Linked DNA regions of Homo sapiens. The protein of the gene in region 1 purifies or fractionates together with the protein of each later gene. This does not show direct contact. Each region holds a gene or a part of one and is shown on either strand. Other genes may lie near its edges.

Region 1 (3,500 bases):
AAAAGCCTGGGGAGAGGAGCAGACTGTGGCTAGTGAAGAGCAGATAGAAGCAGAGAGAACTAGGAGTAGCAGAAACGAATGAGAAGGGCAGGGATAGAGCCACCCCCACCCGCCCTTTGCAAGGTGTGCTCCAGGTGTGTGGCACGTGGCAAAGAGTCCTCACATTTACACTGCCCTTGAGAAATGCATTCTAAAAGCAGATGGAGTTTGTGCTGAATGTGTTCCAAGGCGCCCCCCCCGGCCCCCCTGCTTTAATCCCCTCTCACCTTGTCCCACACCTCCTCAGTGACATCCATTATGCTTCCAAAGAAAGGGTTGACAGCAGCATTGGAGACTAGGATATCGATACCTCCATGAAGCTTCACAGCCTAGAGAGAGGGGTAAGTTCTGGACCAGGGCTGCAGTAAGTAAGGGAGGTGCATTTACCCATGTTGATAAAAACTTCCTTCTGGGCAAGGAGCTGTGGCTCATGCCTGTAATCATGGCACTTTGGGAGGCCAAGGTGGGAGGCTCACTTGAGCTGAGGAGTTTGAGAGAAGCCTGGGCCATGCAGCGAGACCTTATCTTTATATTAAAAACAACAACAACAATGACAACAAAATCTTCCTACTTAGGAACTATCGTCAAAATAACTTCTATTTCTTAAAACATCTTTTTTGAAAACTACCCTAAGATCTGCCGCTAACCATTTAAGGTTGGCTTCTTTCTTTTTTAGACGGAGTCTTGCTCTGTCATCCAGACTGGAGCACAGTGGCATGTTCTCAGCTCACTGCAGCCTTGACCTACTGGGTTCAAGCCATCCTCTTGGCTCAGCCCCCCAAGTAGTTGGGACTACAAGTGCGTGCCACCACACCCGGGCAATTTTTGTATTTTTTATAGAGACAGGGTCTTGCCATGTTGCCCAGGCTGGTCTGGAACTCCTGGGCTCAAGCCATCCACCTGCCTCAGTATCCTAAAGTGTTACAGGCGCGACCCACCAGGAAGTTGGCCCTATTTCTTTTGCAGTGTTTTCTTCCCACCTCCTATTCTTCCAAGGCTGTCTCTGACGCTCTTTTCTTTACACTTCCCCTTTGGGAAGCTCCTTCATTCTCATGATTTCAAGTCTCACCCCAAAATCTATTTCCAGACCCCTCCTCTTCCTTTCACACTGAGTTCCACCCACATTTCTCCAAGTGCTTACTGTCCAGTTCTCCTTGAATAAGTTACCATTATCTCAAAGTCAATCTGTCCACACTTACCTGAATGGAAAAACTGGCTTAAATAGAGCTGTAGAAAGTTACCCTGGAGGGGCCTTTGAGATCATCTATTCCAGTGTCCTTAAGGTGGAGATGATGAAATAGGTTCAGAGAATTTTCTCAAGATCTTATAGTTCAGTAGTGGCACACTGGGGCTAGGTAAGAACAGGAGGCCTGCTTATTCTGTGTTTGGGAGGGGTGAAGTGATGTTTTCAGGGCACAAAGCTAGTTAGTGGTGGAAGAACTGAGGTCAGTCTCCCACTTTGTAGCACAGAGCTAATTCATAAGAGCCCTCTGAAAGTGAGTTGGGGTCATCAGGAAACTGGTTGCCCAGGAGAGCCGTGATGGGAGAAGATACCAGCCTGAATTTAAAGCAATTCCATATTTGGTTATGATGTCATTTTCCCTGTCTCTGTCTCTCTCTTTTGACCTGGAGGCATGAAAGATTCAAGGCAGAAACTGAAATTTAAATTGAGAAGGCGAAGAAAGGCAACATCTCACCTCCTTAATAAGTTATAAGTAGATAGTGAGGCCTGTGCTAGAGTAATGAATGGCCAAGCAGAATCTGCCAACAAGGGTTTTCAGTACAAAGCCACCCTGAAACCAGACTTTCCGTTTGCCCGGAACTGGCAATTTTGATGCCTTGGGCAAGTTGCAGTACACGGGCCCTCGGTCAACTTTGTGCTCCGGATTTGGCACACAGAGGGGTGTTACTAACAATGTACACCATCTGCTAGCTTCCCGTTTTAACTAATTATTCTTGTTAACTAGGTGCTAAGCTCAGTTGTTTCTAGACAGTTGAAGGAATGCTGGGCTGTCAATGTGTAAATCTAACAAAATTTACAGTCACATAATCTTTTAAAACCAGTATTAATACTTTCTTGCACCCTTTAAATTTTGGTATCCTGGCACAAAGCCAAGTCACCTGCCTTGGCTCTGTGTAAGTCTCACCAATGGACTTGTTACTAGGGAGGTGCAGAGTAAGTTAATAAGTGATGTGCGCCGTGCTCAGTACACATGTGTTTGGGCTGGGAGGAGACAATGGATTGCTCTAGAATCACCTGGAGACATTTTCTACTCTGCTGTATACCCCATACTCCTCTCCTTCCAGGTCTGTCAGCACAGAGATGGGAGGAGGCTGGGTTTTGATTGAACAGAGACAGCAAACCATAAAAGATGAATGAGGCTGGGTGTGGTGGCTCACACCTATAATCCTAGCACTTTGGTAGGCCCAGTGGGGAGGACCACTTGAGGCCAGGAGTTCAAAACAGCCTGGGAAATACAGCCCCAACTCTACAAAAAATTTAAAAAATGAACTGGTGTGGTGGTGCATGCCTATAGTTTTAGCCACTTGGGAGGCTGAGGTGGGAGGATTGCTTGAGTTCAGGACTTCGAGGTTACAGTGAGCTATGATCATGTCACTGCACTGCAGCCTGGGCAACAGAAGGAGGCCCTGTCTCTGGAAAAAAAAAAAAAAGGAAAGTCTTCTAAGTCTTATTCTAAATTGTGTGATCACTACACCAAAGCGGTTAGGAGCTGTTTGTTCTGTGTTCTGATAGTTATACATTTTTAAGAAAAAATATAATCAAGGAGATAGGCAGCTACTCTGGTTTCCACTTACAACACCAGTGAGAAGCTTCGTGGTGTCCAGATGAGGAGGCCACTGGGTAGTATCCATTCTCAGGAAAGTGGCTTTTCTCATTGCAGGGTAACATGTGGCAACTGGCAGAAGACATTTCAAATTGCTGACAAGTATTCTATCATTCTCCTCTCTGACAATGGTCATACAAACTACTTGAGAGTCATTTTTGACTTCTCTATTTCCCACTTTTTGACATGGGGTTGGAAAATCTTGGTTCGTTTCCACTGAATGTCTCTTGGGCACATCTATTCCAGTCCCACCGCCACTGCTCTAAACCTGGAGGACAGCAACAGCTTCCTCACTGATGCCCTGGATTCGGTGTCTCCTCTGTATATCCTTCCTACCAGAGCCAGATTAGCTTTCCTAATAACCATCTTTCTCTTGCTCAAAACCTCACATGGCTTCTTATTTGCTACAAGGGTGTGTAAACATATCCTTTTAAGAGGCCATATCCTTTTAAGGTCCTTAACGTATCCTTTTAAGAAGCTATGGCCGGGCACAGTGGCTCACGCCTGTAATCCCAGCACATTGGGAGGCCGAGGGGGTGGATCACCTGAGGTCAGGAGTTCAAGACCAGCCTGGCCAACATGGTGAAACCCTGTCTCTACCAAAAATACAAAAAT
Region 2 (3,500 bases), on another chromosome or scaffold:
TCCTATCATCTGGAATACTCTAAGGCCCTTTTTACACCTAATACTAGATTTGAAGATTCTAATGGAGTTGTATGTTTAGAAATTTGTCTTGTTAACTATGATACATTTTTTGAGCTACTTTTTAAGGTAACAGTAAAAAATTATACATTCCTACCTTGTGTCAATTAAGATGTGTTATACAAACTAAACATTGTCAATCAGAGCTTTTCCCTTAAAAAGAGAAAAAAAAAGGGAGAGAAAGAGTGCCATGAAACCATGAACACATACAGTTTTCTATCTTTAAAATGATAAGAAGTTCTTTTTTGAACTGTGTAAGTTATGGGTTAATCGAACTTGATAGTTACCACAGTCAGAGTATTAAAGCCAGCTCTCCCAAGCAGATGTCCCAGGTCATTGACAGCAGTGAAAGGAGAAATGTGTGGAGAAAATCCTCCTTCCCTTTCCGTTTCCGCTAACTGTAAGGAACACCGAAGTTCATAGAGTGTGTCGCCTCCAAACATTGCACCGATAAACACTCCATCTGGTTTTAAAATATAATGAATCTGTAATAAATACAAGAAAACAAAATGATTCAAATTTTTATATATATAAATGTTAAAAAATAAATATATAGTGTCTAAATTAACATTTTATGACAACCACTTTTATTCTGCCAAATTAATAATCACATAATTTAACAAATAACATCTAATGCAACCAACTGTCAGAAAATCATGATGCATAATATACTTGGAAAGACAACTATACATTCACTAATATTAATGCCTATAAAAATATGTTGTATGTTTTCAAGTTTTCTAATAGGTATACAACTTAGTTTTATAATCAGAAAAATGCTGAAAGAGAAAAAAAAATTTAATTGGGGTAGGCTGCAAAAATCACAAACCTCCCTGCATCTATGGCCTCTGAAACGTCGTTTTCTAACAACTTTCATCAAGATAGGGAGTCTATTTCCCCTCCCCTTGAATCTTGGCTGGCCTTGTGACTCGCTTTGGCCAAAAGAATGCAGTGGAAGTGACAGTGTGCCAGTTCCACGTCTAGGTCTCAAATGTGTTGCATGCTTCCACCTGCTCTCTTGGAGCCCAGCCCAGCCACGATGTGTGAACAAGCCTGAGCTAGCCTAGAGGAGGAGGAGAGATGTAGGGCAGAGATCAGCCAGCTGTGTGCACCGAGGCCCTCCAAACCAGCTAGCTCCCAGACGATCTGGCAGCTGATCACAGACACACAGATGAGCCAAGCCAGACCCAGATTTCCTAACCAAATCCAGCCCCAACTGCCAACCCACAAAATCATGGGCTACATAGTTGTTGTTTTAAGCCATCAAGTTGGGGTGCCTTATTATGCAGAAAAAGCTACAGAGAAATCATTATGATTCACAGCATTAACCTAGTAACATATTACCTTTCGTTAAAGAGAAGTAATCAATTTATTTTCCAGCTTTAAAACAAAACCAATTTCTAATTAGTAACTTAAGGAAAATAATGGCCAGAGAGAATTCCAGAATCACAGATTTTGCTCACTCTCAGACTACAAGCTGTAACTAGTTTGATTGACTATTCTCAGCAATGAGGACCATTACAGGAAAAGGTAGATTCTGAAGTAAACCAGAATCCAAATCACAGTAGGCTCTTCTAATAAAAGTACTGTCTTAAATTTATATTTAATATGTCATGAAGCAATTAAAAGCAGTATTAAGTAAATAATTTGTAAAAGCTTTGGTTCCTTCCCTTCTTCACCTTTAGTGTTGCTTCCTCCTCCTGTCATCAAACTCTACTAAACCAAATACCTAAGACTTAGTTCTCAGAATTCTGCAGCTCCCCGCTCTCCCTCAGACAGCTTATCAACTTCCATGATTTCACAATGACCACTTTCCAATCCCTAACTTCAGCTTGGCCATCTTCTCAGAAGTCCAAAGTCATCTTCAACTGCCTATTCCCTGGACATTTGTCTCTCAGCATACTCACCGTCCCTGCTCCCTCCAACCCCTACAAGGAAAACATCTATTTATCAAATCAATTCCCCTTTCCAACTGCCATATTTCTATTGCCATTTTCTATTCCCTTTATCTGATCATTAACATTCTTTCCCCTACTTTTACTAATCCAGACTCAAAAACTTCAAAGTGAGTTTTGCCTCCTCCCTTTGATCTTCAGATCTAATCAGTCACCAAACTGTTGATTCTTTCCTTGTAGAGTCCTAAATACTCTTCCTTTTAACTCCTACCATTACCACCTAGGTTTAGTTTATCTCATTCTTGGACCACTGAAACAGTCTCCCTTCAATTTAACGAACTGCTCCAGGCATCAGTTTCTTTCTTTTTTTTTTTTTTGAGACAGAGTCTCACTCTGTCGTCTAGGCTGGAGTGCAATGGCGTGATCTCAGCTCACTGCAACCTCTGCCTCCCGTGTTCAAGAGAATCTCCTGCCTCAGCATCCCAAGTAGCTGGGATTACAAGCACCTGCCACCACACCTGGCTAATTTTTGTATTTTTAGTAGAGGCGGGGTTTCACCATGTTGGCCAGGCTGGTCTCGAACTCCTAACCTCAGGTGATGCAACCACCTCAGCCTCCCAAAGTACTGGGATTACAGGCATGAGCCACCACGCCCAGCCGAGGCATCAGTTTCTAATCAGCAAAATAAATACATCTCGCAGAGCTATTTAACACAAATATAAAACAGAGCACAGTAACGGGAAACTGGAAAATCATACGTGTTCAGATATGGCCATTATTATTTTGCCCACCAGCTTTATAATGATGTCATTTTCCTCTTCAAAATGCTCCAGTGGCTCTGAATTGCATAAACTCCAAATTCCTCAACCTGACACTCAAATCCTCCTAAATACTGTCCCAATACATCACACCTCACTTCCCAGCACTATACTAGTCCTCCAAACAGGTTTCCTTTTTGTTCCTTAATGCTGATGAAGCTCTTGTGCCTCTCCACCTATCCTGTGATTCTGCCTTCTTAGAATGCCTTCCCAATCCAAACTTTACCTACCCTCTAAGGCCCTGCTCAAGTACTTTCCTCTTGAAGCTTTTCTAGGCCATGTCAAGCCACAGGGATCTTGTTCTCTCCTTTGAACACATACTTTTTACCTGCCTCTCACCTGTCTATTGATACGTGTCAATCGATAAAAACTTACCTAGCACTCTCTGAGTATAAGGCATGGAGAAAATACAAATATAAATAAGTAGGTTCCTACTTGCAAAAAGTTTATGGGCAACTAAGGGTAAGAAGAAATCTACATAGAGAATGTCTTATGATTTCAATATTATTTTGCACAGTTCCTAAGCTTTTCATAAATATTTAAAACTTATCTCTACAATTAGATTTCTTAAATTCTCAGGGAAAGGAGAGTTGCCCAATGTACTACTAATATGCCAAATGGCACCAGATGATTTCACCGATTTCTTTCCCAACTGTCAGACCTACAAGTAAATAGTATGTGAAAATAGAAACATCTGTAGATTTCTAACAATAAAGAAAATAACACAAGA
Region 3 (3,500 bases), on another chromosome or scaffold:
GCGGGCGCCTGTAGTCCCAGCTACTTGGGAGGCTGAGGCAGGAGAACAGTGTGAAACCGGGAGGTGGAGCTTGCAGTGAGCCGAGATCGCGCCACTGCACTCCAGCCTGGGCGACAGAGTGAGACTCTGTCTCAAAAAAAAAAAAAAAAATTCTGGATCCAGAAAACATAAATGTGTTGCATAATTTATTTTTACTTCTGTAATAAATCATTAAATTACAAAGCTTGGTACAAGGGAAAATCATCTTTGGTAAATTACTTCACTATCAGATTAAACATTTCACTATCAGGTAGTTAACAGCAATAAAAATGACGCAAAAGAAAAGCTTCCAGGTTGTTTAGAGAAATCTAAAACATTTTAACAGATCCCACTAATGAATAAAAATGACCAGGTAGGCCAGGCATGGTGGCTCATGCCTGTAATCCCAGCACTTTGAGAGGCCAAGGCAGGTGGATCACCTGAGGTCAGGAGTTCGAGACCAGGCTGGTCAACATGGTGAAACCGCGTCTCTACTAAAAATACAAAAATTAGCTGGGCGTGGTGCTGCATTCCTGTAGTCCTGGCTACTCGGGAGGCTGAGGCGAGAGAATCACTGGAACCTGGGAGGTGGAGGTTGCAGTGGGCCGAGATCGCACCACTGTACTCCAGCCTGGACAGCAGAGGGAGACTCCGTCTCAAAAATAAATAAGTAAATAAAAATGATCAGGTGCAATGATGTTCCACTCAATGTCCTTTAATTTCAGTTTGTTTCATTTGCTATTTTGTGAACACACTTAGGATATGGATTTTGTACTTTTGACCAAGGATAACTAGTATATTCTGTAATTTTATACACTGAGAGTTGCTCAGCTGGCCTCATAGAAGCTACATGTATTTTCCTCTGGATATAGGTAGCTACTGCCAGGTACATCAGTGTCTTGTTAGACTTTATAAATGTTCTGTTTAATGTTAATTTTTTAGAAGACCCAAAATTATCTTATCAAGTGGTTTTTCTTCTAGCTGAATTATTTGTGCCTAACAAGAGACTGATTACTACACATAAATAATTACACTTTCAGTACAAATTACTAAACCTACAATGCTGGCTATCATTGTCTAAAATACAAAGAACATAACAAATACCCATATTTTAATGGAATTGACAACTTAACATTTTAACCTATTAAACTGACACTAAAATATCATTTCCCCTCCTTATGTATGTGTAAACAATTGTAAATAAGTTAATGTAGGCATGCATTCCACCATTTAGCAGAGGAAAAGAAAATACTAGCTGCATCTGTAAAGCTGCCTTTAACAATCAAGTCCTACCACCCACTTCATTTCCCCAAAGCAGCCATCTTCATGTTTGTAGTGTCTCCTTCCAGACCAACTACGATTGTGTCCATAAATAGTATCAAGAATTATTCCATGTTTGGTTTTAAAACATTTATAGAAACTATATACTGTATGAAACATTCTGCAATTTGCTTTTCTTTTAACTTAACCTTATGTTTTTGAGTTCTAACATCATATTGTGGATCTAGTTAATTCCTTTTACCTGTTTTGTAGTATTCTATTGTGTGAATAGTCCACATTTTACTTACCCATTTTCCTACTGACTGACATTTGGTTTTAAATTCTTCATTATTTCACACTACACAGGACCAAACATCCTTGTACACTGGTTCTTATAAACAAGGGGTGAGATTTCTCTAGATCACATGATGTGTGTGTGTGTGTGTGTGTATATATATATATATATACTCTGTGTGTGTGTGTGTGTGTGTGTGTGTGTGTGTGTGTGTGTATATACTTTTTTTTTTTAAGACAGTCTCACTCTGTCACCCAGGCTGGAGTGCAGTGGTGTGATCTCGGCTCACTGCAACCTCTGCCTCCCAGGTTCAAGGGATTTTCGTGCCACAGCCTCCTGAGTAGCTGAGATTACAAGCGTGTGCCACCATGCCTAATTTTTGTATTTTTAGTGGAGACAGGGTTTCACCATGTTGGCCAGGCTGGTCTTGAGCTCTTGGCCTCATGTGATCCACCTGCCTCGGCCTCCCAAAGTGCTGGGATTACAGGCAAGAACCACCACACCCAGCCTGATACGTACATTTTCAATTTTACAGGCCTGTGTCACTGTGCCCAGCACTTCTACTTTCTTTTAAAAGGAGAAATTATTAGGCCTAAGAAACACACTATTAACCAAGATAAAAGGTGACTTCAAGTTTCCTAAAACTTACTTGATATCAGCACCTGCAATAAAGCAGCCTGGCTTTGATGAGATAAGGACGGCACTTCTGATTTGATCACTAGCCCAGATTTCATTCATAACTTCTGAGAACTCTGAATGTAGCTCTTTACTCAGTGTATTTACCTGCCAAAGGGAAATATATACAGGTAAGGGTTTAAATTTGAAGCACTGGATGTACGTACCACCATCAAATGCTATTTTGATTATAAGAAATATACTTATCCGGCAGAAATATACTGTTAGAAGAGAGTAAGAAATATCATTCTCCCAGCAAGTCAGTAGCTTTCTATTCAGGCAGCTTTGGCCCACTACAAGCACCCCTTCCTTTAAAAATAGGTCTTCTCAAAGGAGAAACTCAGGGTCATCCTCAGAGTTTGAATCATATGTAGGCTATAAACAAATAGGTCTACAAACATTTATTGGCATGGAAAAAATCTGCATAATGTTAAGAAAAAAATGAAATACAAATAAGACATATAGGCCAGGCATGGTGGCTCATCCCTGTAATCCCTGCACTTTGGGAGGCCAAGGTGGGCGGATCACTTGAGTTCAGGAGTTCGAGACCAGCCTGGGCAACATAATGGAACCTTGCCTCTACAGAAAATACAAAAATTAGCCGGGCCTGACAGCACACGCCTATAGTCCCAGCTACTCAGGAGGCTTAGGTGGGAGGATCACCTGAGCCTGGGGAGGCTGAAGCTGCACTAACCTGTGACTGTGCCACTGCACTCCAGCCTAGGCAACAGAATGAGACCCTATCTTCAAAAAAAACCATATAGTATGATCTTAGTTTTGTAAATATTATTCATTGAAACTGAATTAAATGTGATTATCCCATGGAAGATACCAAGAAAAAGATGTGGTTATCTTTAGGTTTGAATTATGAATGTTTATTATTTTCTTCTTTATAATTTTTTATAGTTGAAAAATTTTCTACCATTGACATATATTACTTTTGTGTTCAGGAAAAATGTCCAACCTAAGAAAATTCTGAAAAAATATCTTAAGCTTGAATCATTGGTTAGTGAGTGCTAAAATTTACTCTAGTAAAGGGGAATGGCTCTTATTTACCTTAATTTGTGATAGTTGTCAACTGCTTCCATCTAGGTCTTATTACATCTAAGCCTCTGGCTATAAGTTTGTTGTTGTTGTTTTTTAGAGAGACAAGGTCTTGCTCTGTGGCCCAGGCTGGAGTGCAGTGGTGCAATCATAGCTCACTGTAACCTTGAATTCCTAGGCTTAAGTGATCTTTCCACCTCAGCCTTCA
Region 4 (3,500 bases), on another chromosome or scaffold:
ATGGGAAGATGACTTTATACGCTATTAAGGTTGCCTCTCTCAACAGAGATGATTGGCTGTCCATCTCCTGGTGTGGCAGATAGATCTTCTCTATGTTTATTCTTCAGAGCAAATCCTATGTGAAACAAATCAGTGACCCTGCTGCACACCTGTGCTCCCAACGACAAATCCCAAGGCTGCTGGAATTATCTGAGGCCCAAATGACAAGACCCCGGCAGTCATGCTGACAAGCCCTCCAAACCATGCTTCAATCAAGGACTGTCATCACTCACCTCGTGTCGCTCCTGGAACTCGGACATGTCCAGCCTGATGAAGCCCTGTGTGGAAACAAGCAAGTACCAACTCCGTTTGGAGGCAGGAAAGTGAAGAGAAGGGTTAGGGAGGAGAGCACCTCAACTATCCCCAAGGCTTTCACACCACACCAACATAAGATCTTCTATCTCACGCTCAAGATGTTTTTTTCTGACTTCCTGTCTCCTTTTCTGTGCACTCATTTCCTACGAGTCCCTCATTCTCTTCCTTAAAAGACCCAAATCATGTACCTGACCTTCTAAATCTGACTTGGGGTGTCTTCTTTCAGGGAGGCCTCTCCTGTTCTGATCACCACATCATCCACCCACCCATCCATCCATTCCACGTTTCCTGAGGGCATCCTGTGTGTGCTGGACACCGGAGTTACAACAGGGAACAAGTCTTGGTCTCTGTCCTTAAGAAGCACCCCATCGAATGGTGCAGACATGGACAAAGTCAGTCACGATCAGTGTGGACTGTGGTGCGAGGGAGGAGAGAAACACTCAGATGGCTCCAGAATGCCTCTCAACTCTGCAAGTCTGTGTGATGCCCGTGTCCCTTTGATTTACTTTTCTTCAAAATGAATATATTTTAAAATGTATTTACATTTCTTCATTTCATTAAAAAAGATATCCATAACATAGCTTTACAGCCCTTTTCTCTCCACCACAGGGTGTAGGGGTGATTTCCGAGGAAGTGGCCCCATGGGTGAGGGCCATGGTTAGCCCTTGGGGAAGAGAACAGCTTGCATTATGTGATCTGAAGAGTTAACACAGGCAGAGTGCCCACTGGTTTTCAAGAAGCATTACCTGATTAGGGAGCTGTAAAGGCATCCACAGGTGCCCTGTCTAGCCACAGCCAGGACCACAGTTCCCCACAGTCCCCCGGGCTCCTCTCCTACTGGCACATGCCTCCATCTAAGAGACAGCATTCACTGAATCCTGCTTCTCCTGAGAGCCGGTGATGATGGGGGTGCCAAGATTCTCAGCGGGAGGTAGCTATGTCTGAAATCCAGGGCTATATTCTAGCTTGGCCACTGGTCAGAAATTCACGCCATGATGTACTTTTAGTTCTTTCTCTGTCCTGTCATTCTACAGCTGAGACACAGGGTGGCAAGAAGAACCCTGGGCTGGGAGCCAGGGGGCTCGGGTTCCAGTCCTAGTTCTGCCTGCCTGTGGAGCCTTGGACATGCTGCCTCCCCTTTTTGAGCTGCAGTTTTGTCCTGTGTTACAGAAGGCTCTTGGCTCCTCTCCCTGCCTCACCAGGGGTCTGAGGATCTAATCCAAGAGGTGGGACAGGGCTTAGAGAAGTTATTAAGGCCACATGGGGGAAAGCACTGCTATCAGCACATGGGGCATAAGCCAGAAAGCATTTCCAGAGGGTCCCTAGGCTGCTCAGTCAAGAGATCTGCAGGTTTCAGGATTTACTGGGTATTTACTATGTGCCTGGCAATGTTTTAGGCAAGCTATAAAGGGCTTAGAACATGTACAAGTCTCTGAGGTAAGCACTACTATCATCTCCACTTTACAGATGAGAAAACTAAGTCACAGATTAAAGTAACTTGCTCAAGGTCACCTGCGCTTGGCAATTCAGCTCCAAGTCTGTGCTCTTAGCCATCATGCTACACTGCCTCATAGCTTCCTCTCTGCCAATCAGCTGGGCTCTTGACAGTCTTCACCTTGAAGGGTGCTGAGCTTTGTGTCCAGATGCCAATGAATGTCGGACGACAGATGGACTATAGACTCTCGTGCTTACTTATGTCAAGTGACCTGGGTTCTCACCCTAGTTCTTCTAATGATTTGCTATGTAATTTTGAACAAGTTTTTGGGCTTGACTTTCTTGGCCGGAATCATCATTTTGATTTCACATGATCTTAGTGAGGCAAGAACAATAAGAGTAACATCCAACATGTACTGATTGCTTACCACATGCCAAGAACGGCGTTTAACATTTTACATCACTATCTCATTTAACCTTCCGAACAATCCAGTGAGACTGGCACCATTATGGAGCCTACTTTACAGATGAGAAAGCTGATGTAAACAGAGGTCCTGGCCAACTCCACCTAGTAGAGTACAGTTGGGATTTGAACCCAAGCAGCTGGACTCAGATAGTTGTTCTTTATCCCTTATCATATTGCTACTATAACTAAGTCTTTTGGGCTCCACCACCCTACCTTATGATGATATCACAGAACACCATTAAGGTTCCTTCCCAAGGCTTATTAGCTCTAGTAAGGAAAGTTAACAGAGCCACTCAATTTGGAAGAAATAGTATACAGGCTAATGAGAGAAAAAAATAAGTTCACAGATCTGATAAAGAAATCATATAAATGTACAAAGAATGCTTCTGAAGCAGCAAGATCTGGAGGTGTCAGTGTCTCTTTACAAATGAAGAAACTAGGGATCAGAGAGCCAGAACTAGAATTCACATCATCAGACTCCAGGCCAGTGCTCATTTCATTTCGTCAGCTGTCTTGGGAGGCAAATTAAAGGGAGCTTCTGTTTGGTAAAAGTCTATTTTACACTGGGCTCTGAGAATGACACTTTCCATACATCACTCTTTGGGTCCCAGGTACACTGGCTACGTAGCTTAAAGTCCAGGGCTCTCTTGGATTTTGAAGGCAGGTCTCAAACATGCCTGTCATGTGGCTATAAAGTGTCTACGCAAAACACAGATTCTATAATGAGTTGACCCACAGGGCTAGCACAGGCAGGAGTTTCATAGAAGCACCACCTATGATTTAAAAATAAAATACATGGTTGTTTTTATGGAGCTTCTCATGCCTCTCATCTCCCAATGTGAAATGGGGACACACTGGCAAGTTTCCAATCCAGCTTCCTAGAGCAGCTGAGAACAACGGTATCACAGTGAGGAGTTGAGAGACTGGATTGATTCTGGTTTTATTTCTTCCCCTAATAGGTGACCTTAGATAAGCCTAAGAATGCTGTAGGGCCTCAGTTTTCTCATCTGAAAAGTGGGTCTAATTTAGCATCCATGCTATCTTCCCCATAGGATCAAATGGGAGAGTAGATGGGGCACTGCTATGGTAAGTAGGAAGTGACGAATAAATACAAGTCAAGGAATAGGCACTTGCTGTGTGCTCACCATGATGTGATGACATAAGTGATGAGCACACAGCATCGTCACTTGATGCTCACCATAACCTAAGATATGGGTTGGAGGGCTTTCACCTTGAGGCAAGAGAG

The links. The genes of interacting proteins can lie anywhere in the genome.
Region 2: the proteins of DHRS4 (region 1) and NDUFAF5 purify together in Homo sapiens (affinity purification with mass spectrometry; one large-scale study listed by BioGRID and IntAct). This does not show direct contact.
Region 3: the proteins of DHRS4 (region 1) and HADHA purify together in Homo sapiens (co-immunoprecipitation; one large-scale study listed by IntAct). This does not show direct contact.
Region 4: the proteins of DHRS4 (region 1) and CLPB purify together in Homo sapiens (affinity purification with mass spectrometry; one large-scale study listed by BioGRID and IntAct). This does not show direct contact.

What each region holds. Positions count from the first base shown.
Region 1 is NC_000014.9:23,956,770-23,960,269, reverse strand, and holds part of DHRS4 (dehydrogenase/reductase SDR family member 4), read right to left. Parts: intron 369-3,500; coding exon 267-368; intron 1-266. UniProt on the Homo sapiens protein: NADPH-dependent oxidoreductase which catalyzes the reduction of a variety of compounds bearing carbonyl groups including ketosteroids, alpha-dicarbonyl compounds, aldehydes, aromatic ketones and quinones.
Region 2 is NC_000020.11:13,798,528-13,802,027, reverse strand, and holds part of NDUFAF5 (arginine-hydroxylase NDUFAF5, mitochondrial), read right to left. Parts: intron 543-3,500; coding exon 345-542; intron 211-344; coding exon of another isoform or gene 184-210; exon of another isoform or gene 155-183; intron 1-154. UniProt on the Homo sapiens protein: Arginine hydroxylase that mediates hydroxylation of 'Arg-111' of NDUFS7 and is involved in the assembly of mitochondrial NADH:ubiquinone oxidoreductase complex (complex I, MT-ND1) at early stages. May also have methyltransferase activity.
Region 3 is NC_000002.12:26,234,633-26,238,132, forward strand, and holds part of HADHA (trifunctional enzyme subunit alpha, mitochondrial precursor), read right to left. Parts: intron 2,357-3,500; coding exon 2,223-2,356; intron 1-2,222. UniProt on the Homo sapiens protein: Mitochondrial trifunctional enzyme catalyzes the last three of the four reactions of the mitochondrial beta-oxidation pathway.
Region 4 is NC_000011.10:72,302,032-72,305,531, forward strand, and holds part of CLPB (mitochondrial disaggregase), read right to left. Parts: intron 931-3,500; exon of another isoform or gene 318-930; coding exon 273-317; exon of another isoform or gene 1-272. UniProt on the Homo sapiens protein: Functions as a regulatory ATPase and participates in secretion/protein trafficking process. Has ATP-dependent protein disaggregase activity and is required to maintain the solubility of key mitochondrial proteins.